Homo sapiens: one gene and its partner. The protein of the gene in region 1 interacts with the protein of each later gene in a pairwise test. Each region holds a gene or a part of one and is shown on either strand. Other genes may lie near its edges. The genes, in order: PPARD and PRMT3.

Region 1 (3,822 bases):
ATTAAACAAACTATCAAGTCCCTGCAATGCAGTGTAAATGAGTAAAGAGCCTGCAGGGGAGAAACTGCCACTAGTGGAGACCATGCGAGTGGGCAGCCGATTGCTTGGCTCTGGGGGTGGGTGCCAGAGGCATGCAGGTGCCCAAGGGCCAGGTCTGCCCAATTTTCAAGAGAAGCCAGAAAACCAAAATTTTTAAAGGTTTTTTCGTTCTAACTCTATTTTGAAAAAAGTTCGGTGTTACAGAGTAAGTTGCAGAGATTGTACAGAGTCCCCACATATCCTTTACCCAGCTCACATTAAATCTTACATAAAGGAACACTGGTACAATACTATTAACCAAAGTCAGTGTGTTGTTCAGACCTTACCAGTTTTTCTGCCACTGCCCCCTTTCTGCTTCGGGGATCTGGTCCAGGATCCCACATTCATTTAGTTGTGTCTCTGTGGTCTGCTCCTGTCTGTGAGGCTTCCTCAGTCACAAAGCTAGAGGTTTACGTGACCTTTTCCAGGTTTTCCCACTCTAATGATTTGGAAATCATACATCGGCATCTTGAGACATCTTTTGAGAAGTAAAGGGACTTGAGCTGATTGAATGTTGATCACTCCCTCTCATCTTCCACATTATTAAGTTTTGCCTTCTTATTTTATTATAATTTAAATTATTTTTAAGCCAGGCACAGTGGCTCATGCCTGTAATTCCAATACCTTGGTAGGCCAAGGTGGGCAGATTGCTTGAGCCCAGGAGTCCAAAACCAGCCGGGGCAACATAGCAAAACCTTATCCCTAAAAAAAAATACAGAAATTAGCTGGTGTGGTAGTGCACACCTGTGGTCCCAGCTACTTGGGTGGCTGAGGTGGGAGGATCCCTTGAGCACGGGAGATAAAGGCTGCAGTGAGCCATGATTGCGCCACTGCACTCCAGCCTAGGCGACAGAGTGAGACTGTCTCAAAAAACAATAACAACAACAACAAAAAAACCCATCAGAAAACAGCTAAGAGTTTTGTGGTGGTGTTTTATTTTAGGTTCAGGGTACAGATGCAGGTTTGTTATGTGGGTGAACTTGTGTCACAGGCGTTTATTATACAGATTATTTCATCACCCAGGTACTAAGACTAGTACCCGATAGTTATTTTTTCTGCTCCTCTCCTCCTCCCAGCCTCCACCCTCAAGTAGGCCCCGAGGTTATTGTTAAGTCCAAGCAAGGGAAGGCCTGGTGGAAATGAATGTGTAGCCTTAACATGTTTTGTACAAACTTGGCTGTACATTACAATCACCAGGACAATTAAAAAATAAGAAACCCAATGTCCAAGCTGCTCCCCAAACCAATCAAAGGAGAATCTCTGGGGATGGGACCAGGCATCTGTCTTTTTAAAAACTCCCCAGTGACTACAGTGTACAGCCGAGTTGGCAGGTCTAGAGCAGGGAGAGAGAGCAGAAGGAGTCTCTGATCACTCCAGGTTCTGGTTCTGATGAGTGGGTAGACAGGCAGGTGGGTTGCTAAAGTAAAGATTACTAGAGGACGAATGGGTTTGGGGAAAATGATGGGTTCTGTTTGGATAGATTGAGTTTGAGCTGTCGGTAAAATATCTGAGAGTTGGGGTCCCACAGATGCTTAACATCTTAAAGCAGATCTTTTCTTCTCCTGATCCTTCCACAAGGTCTGGTGCAGACATTTCCCCGCTGGGAGACTCTCCACAGTACCTCATGATCTTATCATCTCTGACTGTGGCATTTGTGGATAATGTTTTACTTGCTAAGGGTTGGAACTGTCTCCTCCTGGGTGATGTGGACGTGGCATCACCACCCAGTAAGTTGTCACCTTGGAAAGACTCCAGGATGGAGCACATCTTCCTTTTTCTGATGTCTCTGCTATTGAGGCCATGGTTGCAGATCTGCTGTCAACATGAGCCAAGAACAGCAGGGCTTTATGTCTTTTTTCCACACCCAACCACTGAAAGGATGGGACTCACCCCTTCAGGAACAGTAGCACAGCAGAGCCGTGATTCTTGGGCCTGAGTGCTGATAGGGACAGGGTCGGGGATGGGAGGCGTGATGCATATCTGGATCTCCAGGTGGGCTGGAGAGTTGGGAAAAGCCCCTCAAGTCATTCCAATGTGCTTCCTGGAGACTCAGAACAGAAGGCAGCAGAGGAGGCAGGGAAGGGTGGCACAGTGATGTGTCACCTCTCTAGTTTATGGAGCCTGCTCCGAACCCCACAAACCCACTACAAGAGCCAGGTGGGAAGGGTGATAGGGCAGGTGACTTGTGATACAAGGAGCAGAGACCATGGTATAGCACTGCAGGAACTAGGGAAGGAGCAGGAGCAGAAGAACCCCCTCCATGACAGCAGCCCCCAAGCGTGCCCCACTCGCACCATCCTCTTCCTTGTCACTGCCTCCCCTGACCTCTTCCTGTCTTCTCCTCTGCCCAGGCTGATGGGAACCACCCTGTAGAGGTCCATCTGCGTTCAGACCCAGACGATGCCAGAGCTATGACTGGGCCTGCAGGTGTGGCGCCGAGGGGAGATCAGCCATGGAGCAGCCACAGGAGGAAGCCCCTGAGGTCCGGGAAGAGGAGGAGAAAGAGGAAGTGGCAGAGGCAGAAGGAGCCCCAGAGCTCAATGGGGGACCACAGCATGCACTTCCTTCCAGCAGCTACACAGGTGAGGAGAGGACTGGCAGGGGACACGGGGCAGAGGAGGCACAGCCCAGTGCAGTGGGGATCCTGGCCCTCTGCAAACGCCATCATGTGGGGCGCAGAGTAGCAGAGTGCTGAAGGACTGGAGCCGGAAGCCTGGGTTCACGCCCAGTGCGGTGGGGATCTGCTCTGCCACTCACCAGCAGTGGGGCCTGGAGCAAGCTGCACCACTTCCTTCTGTAAAACAGGCCAAAGGATGGTAGGTGATGTGGATATGGGCTTTCGTGAGAATTAAATGAGTGGGCATCTGTAACACATGTCATCATCATTATTAGTATTCCCACCACTGTTAACACAAGGCATCTGAGACCAATCTCCACTAACAGCACACTAGAAAGATCAGCTGTACCTGGGATTGTTATGATCAGTCGAAACACACAGTTCAATTGGTCTGGTAATAATTATACACATCATCATTGAGCCGTATCATAATTAGATAAAAATGCTAAGCAGTTAGTATGAATAACTCAACTAATATTATTTTTATGCAGCCAAGCAGTTGTAGCTTCTCCTGTCTCACTTATTGGTTCCCCTTTATTTATCAGCAGTGCAGACAGTTTTCTCTAGTACCCTGTACTGTTCTGTCATCTTCATCATCATCATGTTATGTTTACCTTCAAAAGCACCCAGAATCCATGCAGCCCCTGGCTTTCCCTGCTGCAGTTCCCCCTGCTTTTTTGTTTTTGTGGTTTTTGAGACAAAGTCTCCTTCTGTTGCCCAGACTAGAGTGCAGTGGCACAGTCTCAGCTCACTGCAACCTCTGCCTCCTGGGTTCAAGTGATTCTCCTGCCTCAGCCTCCCGAGTAGCTGGGATTATAGGCGTGCACCACCACGCCCGGCTAATTTTTGTATTTTTTTAGTAAAGATGGGGTTTCACCATGTTGGCCAGGCTGGTCTCGAACCGCTGGGCTCAAGCAATCCACCCACCTCAGCCTCCCAAAGTGCTGGGATTACAAGCAGGAGCCACCGCGCCTGGCCTGATCCCTCTGCTTCTTGCTTTCTCCCACCACTTCTCTCCTTACCCAAGTGCTGCAGGCCTGCACATGCAGCTCATCCTCGCTCCTCCCCTTAGAGGGAACTCAGGGTCATAAGGATATACTGCTGGGAGTAGACACCCTGCACTCGCT
Region 2 (3,822 bases), on another chromosome or scaffold:
ATTAAAAAGAAGTGAAGAAAGAGCTTAGTAAAAATAGTCCAAAAAAAAAAAACAAAAAATAAAACAAAAACAACCCAGACAAACATTACTTCTTTTATGCACAAATGATTATTGGAAACCAAAGTTTTGCAAACTTTACTCACATGCTAATTTTTGGAATTATTTATAAGTTTAAGGAGTACTAGTACTATCATCTTGTTAATTTTTTCTTAAATTCATTTAACTTAGGCTCCTTGTAAACAATAGTATTTATCAAATCATAGTGCTAATGTGCTAAAGTTTTCCTGACACACTAAAATAAATACTTTCAAATAAAAAATGTTTTCCTGTGTTTCACCTAACATCATTTTGCCTACTGTGTATGGTACACCCACCACAACTGCTATAAAATATGTGTGATAACAGTCAATACATTTATAGGAACTGCCAACTTGAAAACACATGCTAATGAAAAGAAAGTTGTTTTAAAATTCATGTCTATAATTGAAGATAAGTTTTGTTAGATATGAGGAGAAACCACACAATTCAAACAAAACAGCAAAACTATGGAGATTTCGATCCAGAGAAAAAATAGCGAAATATCTTTATTTTCCCATTCTGCCCTTTTTCAAATCCTTCTCCATTATACTTTGGAGAAGGGATGGAATCACCTTTCAACTACAGCAGTCTAACCAGAAGTGTGCTGTAAAGACCGTCATCAGCTGAGTAGATCCAGCCAGGAGTAGATCATAACCCAGTGAATGCAATTAATGTAACCACACATCTGAGACACTATTGAAAACAATTTGAGAAAACATTTTAACAGTACAATGTGTTTGTGGGAGGACTGGAAAATACAGAACAAACTATTTACTTAAATAAATGTTAAAAAAAAAAAAAGAGTACATACACTTTTTAACACCTTATTTTCAGGTCTAAATTTTTCTGTCTCAACTATTTATTCATGGCAGTTTTTGCATTAAGCAGAGATCACTAGAGAGAGAAATCAGCAACCTCCACCAACTCTCCTCTTTCTGCTCAACTTTAAGGCTTAGTTGGTTATAACTGTACACTCCTATCCTGAGCCAAAGAGCCCAAATAAACTCTTTATTCTCACTGTACCAGAGCACTGAAGTCGTATAACCATCAAGCAGACTGTTTTTCTTAAAAGCTGAACGCACTTTTAATCAGCCTGCTCTTGTTAAGAAACTTCACATTTATTACTCTATACTATTAATGCTTTATCCATTTAAGAAAATTAAATATGTACTAAATATCTGCTTTGTACAGAGAAGAAATATTGATGCTATATGAAAGTAACAGCGTGATTAAAACGAGAAGACAGCACTTCGGGAGGCCGAGGCAGGCGGATCATGAGGTCAGGAGATCAAGACCATCCTGGTCAACACGGTGAAACCCCATCTCTACTAAAATACAAAAATTTAGCCAGGCATGGTGGTGCATGCCTGTAGTCCCAGCTACTTGGGAGGCTGAGGCAGGGGAATCGCTTGAACACGGGAGGCGGAGATTGCAGTGAGCCGAGATTGCGCCACTGCACTCCAGCCTGGGCGACAGAGTGAGACTCTTTTTTTTTTTTTCTCTTGAGACAAAGACAATATCCTGAACCTAACACTGAACATACTGCTCTAGATTTGATTATCTAGTTGAAACAGACCAAGAGTTAAGAAAAGCAGTATTGTTTTTTGCTGCAAAGTTATTAGTGAACCCATGTAAATTCAACATAGAAAAATTCATAATAAACCCAGAGATTAACATGGCAAAAAATAAGATGACAAAACACAAAAGGAATTAACTGAGAAATCTGAACATAGTAGGGCTTTCGTTTCATGGGCAAATTTACTATATGTAATTACTTAATCTGAAAACGCTGGAAGAAATCTGAATGAGAGAAGTTAAACTGTGTGGAATATATGACACGAATGAATAATCTGGCTGTAAATGAGAAGCTAAAATAAGGCTGGGGAGGATGATGAAGCAGAACTGATAATACAGCAGGACTTTTTACCTTATTAAGCCAAAGTAAATATAAATTATTCAACCGGTTCAGAGTTAGATTTGAAGGACTGTAAAACTGAGTGTAAGGAGTTTTAATATACAGAGAAGTGATTCTAAAGAGATGATATAGTCAACTGGTAAATATTATGACCTCAATTTGTTTTAGACTGATTACAATGGGAAAAGTACTGTTTTGAAAGCCCATATATAAAATCAATATATTATTTTCAAATGCTGAACTAAGAAAAATAGCAATACCATTATAAAAAATAAAGTTGGTAAAACACCTACCTTAATACCACAAGGTTCTGAAATAAGAGTCTTCGGATCTAAAACTTCCACAACAGCTTCTGGAATAACTGCTTTCTTCATGCAGGACATCTTGAAGCCATAGACATCATCCCAAAAAGCAATTCTATCAGCATGTTTATTCACATCACTCACTGCTACAAGGCTGATAGTGCAAATGTCAGGGTAGACTGTAACAAACAAAATGCCCAACAATTAAGCATTATCTCCCTTTCTTATGGAATATAATTTTTTAAAGCCTAAATATAAATATCAAATCCATCAGTAAGGATTACTAGCAATGGGAGATTAATGAAGGTATAGATCAGGAAAAACAACCATGCTTCATCTTGTAGCCTCTTTTAAAAACAGATACGCATTATCATGATGATAAAATTAAAACAGGGATTCCAATGATAGGGTTTGAATTAAAATAGGGTTATATAATTAAACAATTCTGAAATAAACATATTTATTGATATTAAAACTTAAAGTATGCTAACTTAAAAGGTACTAGATCTTTACTTATTCCTATATTCCTCTAAAAACATGCAGAAAAGGACAAATCATTTAAAAAGATATGTAGCATGTAAGAAAATCATGTAATAGGGTTTTATAGTTATACAGAAGACCACTTCATATTACTCTCATTTAATAGAAAAATATTTATAAGCATAAAGTATGTGCCAGACACATGTGCCAGTCTAATTTACAGACTATGGACACATATCACTATCCTCAATAAACTTATATTTAGACTATTTTGAAAAAGAAATGCATAGTTATTTGTGAGGTAATAAATACTAAGAACAGGAGCATCCAAGGTACTAAGGGAGCTCATGGCAAAACCAGCTAATTCAGACTTGGCTGGAGCAGGGGAGAAGGGATAATATATAAGATAAGAACTGAAGCCCAGTAAGTTGGGAGTGGGGAGGGAAAGTGTATTCTAGGCAAAGTGAGCAGCAGTGTGCATAAAGGGTCACAATAGATGGGATGGCCCATATACAATCTAATTGAGAGAGAAATAAGACACAAGGCTAGAAAGGTAAGTAGAGACCAAAGACTACATGCTGAGTAAACCAAATTAGTAAACTGGACTTAATTCTAAGAATAATGATAATCCAGTAAAAAATTTTACATAGGGTAGCAACATGACTAGATTTTGATTTTAGACAAACCACCTGGAATGCAATGTGGAGAATAATGGGAGGGTCTAAGATGAAAACAGAGACAAATTAAGAGATAGTTAAAATAAACCAGGTGATCTGAACTAGGATATTGCTGTGGGAATGGAAAGGATGAGATGTATTCAAGGGATATTTATGAAGTAGAACTCAGAGGACTTTGAGGCTGAGTGGCTGTGGGGCAAAAGGTCAAGGATGACAGTATTTAGCTTTAGTAACAGCACAGATTGTGGTACTAACCATTATAATAGGACATAAATATGGGCAGATTCAAAAGGAACAGGAGCATTTAGTGCTTAAGAGATAAACAAATAAAAATGTCTGAAATGTAGCTGAATACAAAGGTCTGAAATTC

Evidence for each region.
Region 2: the proteins of PPARD (region 1) and PRMT3 interact in a two-hybrid assay, tested with the Homo sapiens proteins (one large-scale study listed by BioGRID and IntAct).

Annotation. Positions count from the first base shown.
Region 1 is NC_000006.12:35,408,558-35,412,379, forward strand, and holds part of PPARD (peroxisome proliferator-activated receptor delta), read left to right. Parts: intron 1-1,656; exon of another isoform or gene 1,657-1,805; intron 1,806-2,429; 5' UTR 2,430-2,530; coding exon 2,531-2,660; intron 2,661-3,822. UniProt on the Homo sapiens protein: Ligand-activated transcription factor key mediator of energy metabolism in adipose tissues. Receptor that binds peroxisome proliferators such as hypolipidemic drugs and fatty acids.
Region 2 is NC_000011.10:20,460,632-20,464,453, reverse strand, and holds part of PRMT3 (protein arginine N-methyltransferase 3), read right to left. Parts: intron 2,475-3,822; coding exon 2,287-2,474; intron 1-2,286. UniProt on the Homo sapiens protein: Protein-arginine N-methyltransferase that catalyzes both the monomethylation and asymmetric dimethylation of the guanidino nitrogens of arginine residues in target proteins, and therefore falls into the group of type I methyltransferases.